Linked DNA regions of Homo sapiens: region 1 is linked to region 2. Evidence: fine-mapped expression QTL. A gene starts in region 2. The other region holds a variant in brackets. All regions are shown on one strand. Distances are between the middles of the regions.

Region 1 (5,385 bases), 41 kb before region 2:
TTCAAGCTTCCTAGTGGCTTTGTTTACACTGTGAGGGGAAAACCCCCTACTGAAGCCTCAGTAATGGTAAACGCCCCTCCCCCCACCAAGCTTGAGCATCCTAGGTCAACTTCAGACTGCTGTGCTGGCAGTAAGAATTTCAAGCCAGTGGATCTTAGCTTGCTGGGCTCCATGGGGGTGGGATCCTCTGAGCTAGACCATTTGGCTCCCTGGCTTCAGCCCCCTTTCCATGGGAGTGAATGGTTCTGTCTCACTGGCATTCCAGGTGCCACTGGGGTATAAAAAAAAACTCCTGAGCTAGCTCGGTGTCTGCCCAAATGGACACCCAGTTTTGTGCTTGAAACCTAGGGCCCTGGTGGCATAGGCACCTGAGGGAATCTCCTGGTTTGTGGGTTGTGAAGACTGTGGGAAAACCATAGTATCTGGGCTGGAATGCACCGTTCCTCATGGCACAGTCCCTTACTGCTTCCCTTGGCTAGGGGAGGGAGTTCCCTGACCTCTTGTGCTTCCTGGGTGAGGCAATGCCCCACCATGCTTCGGCTCACCCTCCATGTGCTGCATCCACTGTATAACCAGTCCCAGTGAGATGAGCCGGGTACCTCAGTTGGAAATGCAGAAATCACCTGCCTTCTGCTTTGATCTTGCTGGGAGGTGCAGACTGGAGCTGTTCCTATTTGGCCATCTTGCCAGCCACCTAGACATCTTTTTCTTAATTAGAAATGTTATTTTCTATTCAATCTTTCTTTTACTCTACCACAAAGCAATAAGGTTTCTTTTTTGAAATAAATAATATTTGAAAAAAATATGTTTGATATGATCATGTTCATGTAGAAATGTGTATTTAAGTCTGCATTTTAAAATTAAATAATTTTTAAGAAAAGATTAGGCCTTAGAAGCGGGCACACAAAGTTGAAGATAGTGGTCTGTGAGTGAGGTTCTGAGTGTTTTCTATTTTCTGCCTTTTGCTTGTCTATGGTTCCTTTTTATTTTCCCACTAATGAACATATTTTGTTCCTGTAAAATGAAAAACACAACAGCAATATGTGAATGTGCCTACCATGCAAATATGTATAAAGTTTATGCTTTTGTAAGAGTTGCTTTTAAGGATAAATAGAGGAAATCACAAATAGAGGTCAGGGAAAATATATCTTCTTACACTGTTTTATAGTTTTGCTTCTTAAAACTGTAGAGCTCATGCATCAAGTAGACTGGAAGGTCTTCTGATACTCAAATTTGGGTATTTTCATCCTTGATCCACTTCAATAAGAGCAGATCTCAGAGAACAAATAAACTTTTCTATTCCAACATTCTCCTTCCTGCAATACTAGTCCACTGTGTTTCTTGCCTGCCAGTCTTCTCAGCTAGGTTTCTTTTTCATGAGCAAATGAGTATAGGTGGCTTTCCTTTTTCTTAATTAGCAATTTTATTTTGTATTCAATCTTTCTTTTACTCTACCACAAAAGAATAAGATTTCTCTTTTGAAATAAATAATGTTCTTTGCCTCATCTATTAACTGGATGTGATACATTTATTTCATGAAGTTATCTTGGGTCCTTCAGGGAAGCCACCTTTATTCAGAACAATCTGAATTATATGCATTGATAAACCAATCAGTTGTGATTCATCCAAGGCGATAGAATTTACAAGGGCTTCAAGGTGGCTGTCACACTAAACTCTGGGCAATGTTAATGTTGGGCTAACTGAAAATTATAACTAGGACATTTCTTGAACTTATTTTCCATTAGCACAGGCAGGTAAAATTGGTTCTCTTCATTTTATAAACGTCATTCTTCAAAAAGAATCTGGTAGTACAAGATGACTTGCTTGCTTTCTGAATATTTTAATTCTGGATTGTTATATGTTTTGCTGGTAAGTTATTTAAGTTATTTTAATTGATCATATTGTTTTTAAAAATGAGATTTTAAAAATATTTTTATTTTTTCTTAATTTGGGGGGAACATGCACAGGTTTGTTTCAAGGGTATATTGTGTGATGCTGAGGTTTGAGCTTCTATTTATCTGATCACCCAGATAGTGAACCAAGTGCCAAATAGAAAGTTTTTAAAGCCTTGCCCCTCTCCCTCTCTCCTTTTAGAGTTCCCAGTGTCTATTGTTCCCATTTTTATGCATGTGTATAACCAAGATTTAGCACTCACTTATAAGTGAGAACATGTGATATTTGATTTTCTATTTCTGTATTAATTCGCTTAGGATAATGGCTTGTAGGTGCATCTGTGTTGCTGCAAAGGACATAATCTCATTCTTTTTTTTTTTTTTTGAGATGGATTCTGACTCTGTCGCCCAGGCTGGAGTGCAGTGGCGCTATCTCAGCTCACTGCAGGCTCTGCCTCCCGGGTTCACACCATTCTCCTGCCTCAGCCTCCCGAGTAGCTGGGACTACAGGTGCCCACCACCACGCCTGGCTAATTTTTTGTATTTTTAGTAGAGACGGGGTTTCACCATGTTAGCCAGGATGGTCTCGATCTCCTGATCTTGTGATCCACCCACCTTGGCCTCCCAAAGTGCTGGGATTACAGGCGTGAGCCACCATGCCTGGCCGATCTCATTCCTTTTTTATGGCTGCATAGTATTCCATGGTGTATAAATACCACATTTTCTTTATCCAGTCCACTGTTGATGGGCACCTACGTTGATTCTCTGTCTTTGCTGTTGTGAACAGTGCTGTAACGAACATACAGTGCAC[G/A]TGTCTTTTTGGTGGAATGATTTATATTCTGTTGGGTATGTAACTATAATGGGATTACTGGATTAAATGGTAGTTCTATTTTTAGTTCTTTGAGAAATCTTCAAACTGCCTTCCACAGTGGCTGAACTAATTTACACTCCCACCAGCAGTGTATAGGCATTCCCTTTTCTCCATAGCCTTGCCAACATCTGTTAGTTTTTGACTTTTTAGTAATAGCCATTCTGACTGATGTGAGATGGTATCTCATTGTGGTTTTAATTTGCACCTCTCTGCTAATTAGTGATGTTGAGCATTTTTTCATGTTAGTTGGCTGCTTATATGTCTTCTTTTAAGAAGTGTCTTTTCATGTCCTTTGCCCACTTTTTAAATGAGGTTCTTTGTTTTTTTCTCATTGAGTTTAAGTTCCTTGTAGATTCTGGATATTAGACCTTTGTTGTTTGCATAGTTTGCAAATATTTTCTCCCATTCTGTTGGTAGTCTGTTTACTCTGTTGATAGTTTCTTTTGCTGTGCAGAAGCTCTTTAGTTGAATTAGTTCCCGCTTGTCAAATTTTGTTTTTGTTGTAACTACTTTTGGAGACTTTGTCATGAAATCTTTGCTAAGGCCTATGTCTAGAAAGGTATTTCTTAGATTTTTTTTCCTAGGGTTTTTATAGTTTTAGGTCTTACATTTAAGTCTTTATTCCATTTTTGAGTTGATTTTTGTATATTATGAAAGAAGGGGTTCAGTTTCAATCTTCCGCCATCTTCTGTATATGGCTAGCCACTTATCCCAAAACCATTTATTGAATAGGGACTTCTTTCTCTATTGCATGTTATCTTTGACTTTGTTGAATGTCAGAGGGTTGTAGGTGTGCAGCTTTATTTCTGGGTTCTCTAGGTCTATGTGTCTGTTTTTGTACCAGTACCATGCTGTTTTGGCTACTGTAGCCTTGTAGTATAGTTTGAAATCAGGTAGTGTGATGCCTCTGTTCTTTTTGCTTAGGATTGCTTTGGCTATTTAGGCTCTTTTTTGGTTCCATTTGAATGTTAGAATAGTTTTTTTCTAATTCTGTGCAAAATGACAGTGGTAGTTTGATAGTAATAGCATTGAATCTGTAAATTGGTTTGGGCAGTATGGCCAATATAACAATATTGATTCTTCTTATCCATGAGCATGGAATTTTTTTATTTGTTTGTGTCATTTCTGATTTCTTTCAGCAGTGTTTTGTAATTCTTACTGCAGATAATTTACTTCCCCAGTTAGCTATATTCCTAGGTATTTTAATCTTTTTGTGGGATTACCAATTTTCTAGCAAAATGTTAAATATTAACTCATGAACATTAATCCTTTTGGAATGAGATTTTTTCTAAAATATATTACTAAATATTTTACATTTTCCTACCACTATATTTTTTGATAATTTTGTCTATTTCCTTTTTAAATCAAATATATAAATTAACTTTATTGTTAAATATAGAAAATAATTTATCAAATGACTATAATGTTTATAAGCACACAAGTAATTATGTTCTCTGAAACATTCTGCATACTTTGTAATGAACAATAACTCTTTAAAAAGTATTTCAGGTGATTGTATTTAGAATCAAAGTCTTCAGCATTTACATAAGGTCAAGGAGAAGTAGTTATTGGACATGTTCCAAAGGAGCTAAACAGATTTTAGTGGGTGACTAAACTATAACTGGTAATTTATATTGCTTGGTCTTTTATGATACAATGTCCTTTCCATTTTGAGTTCTTAAATCCACTTCACCCCAAATTTTAGATATTAAAAAAATTATTTCTACCATTGCCATTTCACCTGCCATAAAAAATGCTCATTCTTAGCAATAGTTAAGTATATAATATCTAAATAATTGAAAAAAAAGACTCAAATATTTTAATTGAATTCATTGGCTATAGGTAGTCCATTCAGTGGTATAATTGAGAGGAACTCAGGATTTATTGCTCTTGGTGGGTAGGAAAAACTGAAAAATGTGGCTAATATTGGGTTTCAAATGGCCCTTGAAATTTCTTGTGATTATCCACAAAAGCATACACTAAGTTGACGTACACTAAGGTAACATGGTAGAACGTTAAGGCAATGCTTTGTGAGTTGGTGTATCTGTTTGATTCTCATTTTTCCATATCCTCATGTATAAAATGAGACAATAATAGTGATCTATCAAGATTACTGGAAGGTGGTAAATAATGCATAGGAAACTGCCTGCCACATGACTCACAATTAGTATTAGCCCCTTCCCCTTGAATGATAAATATCAGTGGAATATCTACTGACTTTTTAATATGATGGAATTATTTTTCATTCATTCTCCAAATATTTATTGAACAAGTCAGTCAGGGATTAGGCATGAAAGCAGAAGCCTCTCAATATATTCCAAGTATGAATATTTTCAATGCAGGGAATTAGAGGCTTACCCAATGGTTAGAAGGCTGCAGAAACCAAGGTGAAGAAGGCTGTCAGCAACAATCTCAGCCTTTGCACTATGAGGTTCTCAAGAGTTTGCACAAAAGACACCTGAAATTAACCTCTGGGAGATTCCCTCTGACCTCTCAGTCTGCAGGAGTGATGCAGGTGATTTTCGGGAAGCTCACCTGGAAACTGCTTCAAACCTTCTATCTTGGTCATGTGCCTGCAGCCGCTTCCAGAAAATAATGACCCCTTTCTCTTCCAAATCTTGT
Region 2 (5,385 bases):
GAATTTTAGTACTCAAAGTAGATCACGATAATGTATGTATCAAAAGGGATGGAGATTGTCATATAGAACCTACAGTAAACTGTTGTTCTTTCACTCCACTGGCTTGGACCTGATAAGTGGAAATTGACCAGCAGTAGTCGTTTGAAATTATTTATATCCAATGTAGATTCATTCAACGTAAGATTACCCAATATGGTCTATTTAATCTAGGAGGGTGCCTGTGATGGTGCACATGCTGGCCCTTCTACCTCTGCTCATCTGGCTGTATTAGGTCACCCTAATATGCTGATCCTCACAAGATGTGGTGCCCTTCATTGGATGCAGTCAGCTCACACAGGTTGGTACTAATAAGATACTGTGGCTAGAACTGGGCTGTGGACTCAAAACCTACACACACACACACCCCATATGTGGACTTAGGGTATTTTATTTCTTCTGGCAAAAAAAAATGCATTTAAATAGTATATTCATTATGGTAGAATTTCAGGCAGAGTAGTAGAGCTTTTTCATAGCAGGTGGCCATTCTTAATCTTCCTTAAGTGTACCCAACCCAAAGGTCTATTATCTTCTCTGTACATAAGACCTGGTGATAAGATTGTTGTCTTTGTAAATAAGGGCAAGTTTAAGAGATTTCATATATGTTTGCCACAAGGTCAAGTTTAAGAGATTTCAAATGTTTGCCACATCTGAGATTTTAAAAAATACTTCCAGTTTAACATAATTTTATGTACATTCTTCCAAATACTTTTTGCTTTTCCTTTCACTATGTTTAGGTAAATTTGAGCCACATTTTTGCCTTTCATTCCTAAGAAACATATCAAAATATTTGACCCATCAAACATTTATTGAAATGTCAGATGATCTTTTCAATAAAAAGAGGGTTTCAAGGGCTAAAATTCAGGAAGTTAATGTGCCAAACTTAAACATACTGTGATCTCAAGAAGTTTAGGGTTGCTTCAGAATGTAAAATTAATCAATACAAGATGGGCCTACAATTTAGAAAAACATATCCCTTTTTCCTTTAATTCTTTTTCTGTTACTACTATTTTGTGAGAAAAACAGCAGAAATGTTACAGAGTAAAATGGACCCGTTTGCTTTTAAAGTTTTGTTTTTTGTTTGTTTGTTTAGTTTGTAATTTAGAACCGTTTGAAACAACGTTTCTCAGAGTGTGCTCTGTGGAACAGAGGGCCCTCAAAAGGTACCTCACCAGAAAAAGCTGTCTTGTCAACTAAATGGGGAAAGTACTCCGTCGTGTTTCCTCTCTGAGAGGCTCACAATGTGTGTCACCATCTGGAGGCTCTGCAAGAATGGAGAGTAGTAAAAGAAGATTTTTCACTTTAACCCAGCATTGTTTGCTTGGCAAGTAGATCTGTTAATATCCATGGATTGTATCTGGGGAAATACCAAGTTTTTCATAGTTACTTAACCCTTGAATATTTATCCTCCTCAGAGCATGGAAGCAAGCAGTAGAATGCGATCGTTGATATATGGACTTTAATTTTTTTAATTTTATTTATTTATTTATTTATTTTGAGATGGAGTCTTGCTCTGTCACACAGGCTGGAGTACAATGGCACGGTCTCTGCTCACTGCAACCTCCGCCTCCCAGCTTCAAGCAATTCTCCTGCCTCAGCCTCCTGAGTAGCTGGGATTACAGATGTGTTCCACCACGCCTGGCTAATTTTTGTATCTTTAGGAGAGACAGGGTTTCACCACGTTGGCCAGGCTGGTCTCAAACTCCCGACCGCAGGTGATCCACCTGCCTCAGCCTCCCAAAGTGTTGAGATTACAGGCGTGAGCCACCACACCTGGCCAGATATATGGACTTTAGACTCAGACAACGTGGGTTCAAACCCCAGTTCTGCTATTTGCCAGGTGTGTGACCTTGAGCAATAGCTTAACCTCTCTAAATGTCAGTCCATAGCTAAGCTGCCAGTAAATATGAAGTTCATTGAGATTTTTCTTCCTGAGCTTGTCATTCAGAAACAAAATGATAGATTTGCATGGATGATGGATTTCCCAACAGGTCAATTTTCACATCTGGAATCTACTTTAAACGTGCTCTACCACATCAAAGTCTAAGGAAGTCAATCTCACTTGGAGGCACACTGCAGAGACAAGTAGGCCTTCTTCCTTGTCCCTCTGTCCTTTCAGACTTCTCCCCCTCTTGTTCCCTCTCTCTTCTTAAGCTTTCCAGCTCCACTACTGCTTTGGCTAATTTCTTTGGGTTCCCCCTCTCTCATTCACCCAGCACCAGCTGAACTGATTTAGGTTTACCTGGCTATGCTTTCCAAATCTAATTCGACAAATATTTACTGAGTACCTAGGTGGTCCTTGAATCACCCTGAGCACCCAATTCCAGGATATGACTTCTTCAAAGGACAGAATTGGAATGTTTACATAATATGAGGGAAAAAAAATAAAAGAAAACACTTAGCTTCTTTAGCAAGCTATCTGATAAAATAGCTGAAATTCAAGAAGCCCTTTAGTTAGGAGGGAGAGATTGCGAACACAACAGGAAGAAGCCCCAGGCTGAGTGGCAAAGGTTGAGATTTTCTATCGTAAGCACACCTCACCCAAACGCTTGCTCCCTGAAAGCTGCTGACGGAGCTTTGGCGAGGGCTCATCCTCCCGTTGGCTGATAAGCGAAGCCCTGTTTTATATTTAACTCGCTGCAGTGCAGGAGGGGTAGGGGTGGAGATGCGTCGTTTATAAGGGGAGCTGTGACAATCTTCTTGCCAGCCCTCTTCCTCCCACTCGGCTCCTCTTACGGAGTCCTCATTCCACCCCCCTTGTTTCCGCATTCATCCTGAGTGGCTGGTGGGAACGTGAAAAGGGAGAGGAAAAGGCGCAAGAAGCCAGAGAGAGGGGTGTGGGAAAAGCGAAAACAGGCTGCCAAATCAGGGGATTCCTTCCAATTTAAAAAGGAAGTCTGCTGACGTTAGTTAGTTAAATTTAACATCTTTTTATGTGTAACACTTGACTTTGGAAGCAAAAATGAACTTTGCGGAGAGAGAGGGCTCTAAGAGATACTGCATTCAAACGAAACATGTGGCCATTCTCTGTGCGGTGGTGGTGGGTGTAGGATTAATAGTGGGACTTGCCGTGGGCTTGACCAGATCGTGTGACTCCAGCGGGGACGGCGGGCCGGGCACTGCGCCAGCTCCTTCCCACCTGCCTTCTTCCACGGCCAGCCCCTCAGGTCCTCCTGCCCAGGACCAGGACATCTGCCCGGCCAGTGAGGATGAGAGCGGACAGTGGAAAAACTTTCGACTGCCGGACTTCGTCAACCCAGTCCACTACGACCTGCACGTGAAGCCCCTGTTGGAGGAGGACACCTACACGGGCACCGTGAGCATCTCCATCAACCTGAGCGCTCCCACCCGGTACCTGTGGCTGCACCTCCGGGAGACCAGGATCACCCGGCTCCCGGAGCTGAAGAGGCCCTCTGGGGACCAGGTGCAAGTCCGGAGGTGTTTCGAGTACAAAAAGCAGGAGTACGTGGTGGTCGAGGCGGAGGAAGAGCTTACCCCCAGCAGTGGAGATGGCCTGTATCTCCTGACCATGGAGTTCGCCGGCTGGCTGAACGGCTCCCTCGTGGGATTTTATAGAACCACCTACACGGAGAACGGACAAGTCAAGTAAATATTAATTTTTGCTTTACCTCCCTTAAGCTCACATATCTGCTTTCCATTTCTTTTCCTTTCCTTTTCACTTTCCGCTTTTAATTATTTTGTTGGTCTGATATTGATCGGCTCTTGGTTTCAATTCTGGCTGTCCATCTGGGAAGCCAAAATTGTTGCCCTATTGTATTTCCAAACCCTGTCATAAAACTTGAAAGTAGTGAATGAGCTTCGTAGAGTCAAAAGTCAGTGTAAGTCTTTTATTCCATCAGGAGAAATCATAATATACTGCACCCTATCTTGAAGATTTCCATAAATTATCTCAGGTTTGAGAACTGCCTTTGGTAAATTTCACTAGTGATATTCCCAGGCTATGTAGCAATATATATACAGCAATATATATGAACTTTTAAAGTGGTATTACACTAAATTTACGTGAAACATCAGTAAATTTCAGTTATTATTTTGTCCATTTTTTTTTTGTCCAATGTCTCTTTTTTGGAGAAGAGAGACATTGAAAAATCACATGTGATCCACAGAATTGTCTTTGTGTCTTCATCTGGAAAGGAAGACAGGACTGTGTTTTTTTCTGTCTCCGATGGCCAGGACCATGCTTTACACATAGGCTTTCAGGAAATATTCATTGAGTCCACACATCAGTGGCATAGGTAAATTTGGAGGCTTGTTGCTCATGATACAATGTGCAAACATAATGCTAAGCCTTTTACAACATAAAAGATATATTAAGTAGTTAAATACATACAAATATTTGTATACAAATATCTATCTAGATAGATAGGTATTTATTCCACTTTCCCACCTATTTGTCTAGCCTTTGTATTGATCAGTGGCTACTACCAGAGCTATGTTAAAGGCATAAACTCTCTCATTGAACTCCAAAAACTTCCTTCACACTGTGGATGTAGCCCTTGCATCAGGGAGGAAGGCTACACTACACCTTGTGTTGTGTCTGGACTGCTTTGACCTTTGCTGGCTTAGATTCTGAAGAGGTAAATGATTAAGAAAGCTTCTTGTCACAGTTTAGAGATGTGAGTCTTGGGCCAGTCCACCCACAAATATCCCTTTTTTTCTGTTGTTTTAAGCATCTTACAGAGCAAGCAAATTTTTTGGTCAAAATTCTTTCTATTGTTTGTCAGACAGACCCACGGACTAAAACAAAACATTTAAATATTCCTATATTCCTGTGTGGTAAACTGATAAATTGAGTAGAAGTGATAGTTTGAAGAAAATATCTGTAGGGGTCATGCTTATATAGATCTTATATCTTAATACTGCTAGCAAAAAAACACTCTTACCATTTACGTATTTTTTCTGTTCATAAGAATTACATCATTGAAAGCATAAAAATTATCAAAAAGGATAATCAAAATAATCTGTAAAATAATTTCACTGCCCAGTGGTAATCCCTGCTAGCATATTAATGTATATTCTAATGTTTTTCTAGGCAATCAAACCTTTAATTGCATTATATCTGTCTATCTATATGCCTTTTTTACTTAATGTCTTGAGAAGTTCCCCTTATTCTTACATGTTTTCAAGAATCTGTTTTTTGTTCTTTATTGAGACAGGGTCTTGCTATGTTGCCCAGGCTGGTCTTGAACTCCTGGACTCAAGCAATCCTCCTGCCACCACTTCCCAAAGTGCTGGGATTATAGGCATGAGCCACTGCACACAGCCAAGAATCTGATTTTAAAGATGTGAAATATTCCATTGTTTGAATACATTGTAATTTTTTAAAAC

Alleles and levels. Positions count from the first base shown, and alleles are read on the strand shown. Sizes are in standard deviations (SD) of each study's normalised expression.
With allele G in place of A in region 1, the expression in esophagus muscle of the gene that starts at base 2,739 in region 2 is lower (small effect, 0.32 SD a copy in GTEx).

The links.
Region 1: its variant is fine-mapped to the expression of ENPEP in esophagus muscle (GTEx, PIP 0.92).

Annotation. Positions count from the first base shown.
Region 1 is chr4:110,431,934-110,437,318 of GRCh38, forward strand. It overlaps LOC124900892 (small nucleolar RNA U2-19), which reads right to left and starts at 1,255; the gene lies at 1,176-1,255. The variant G/A (reference allele first, on the strand shown) is at 2,704.
Region 2 is chr4:110,473,417-110,478,801 of GRCh38, forward strand. ENPEP (glutamyl aminopeptidase) reads left to right here and starts at 2,739. Exons shown (of 20, transcript NM_001977.4): 1 at 2,739-3,642. The coding sequence starts at 2,999. RefSeq lists an enhancer at 1-35.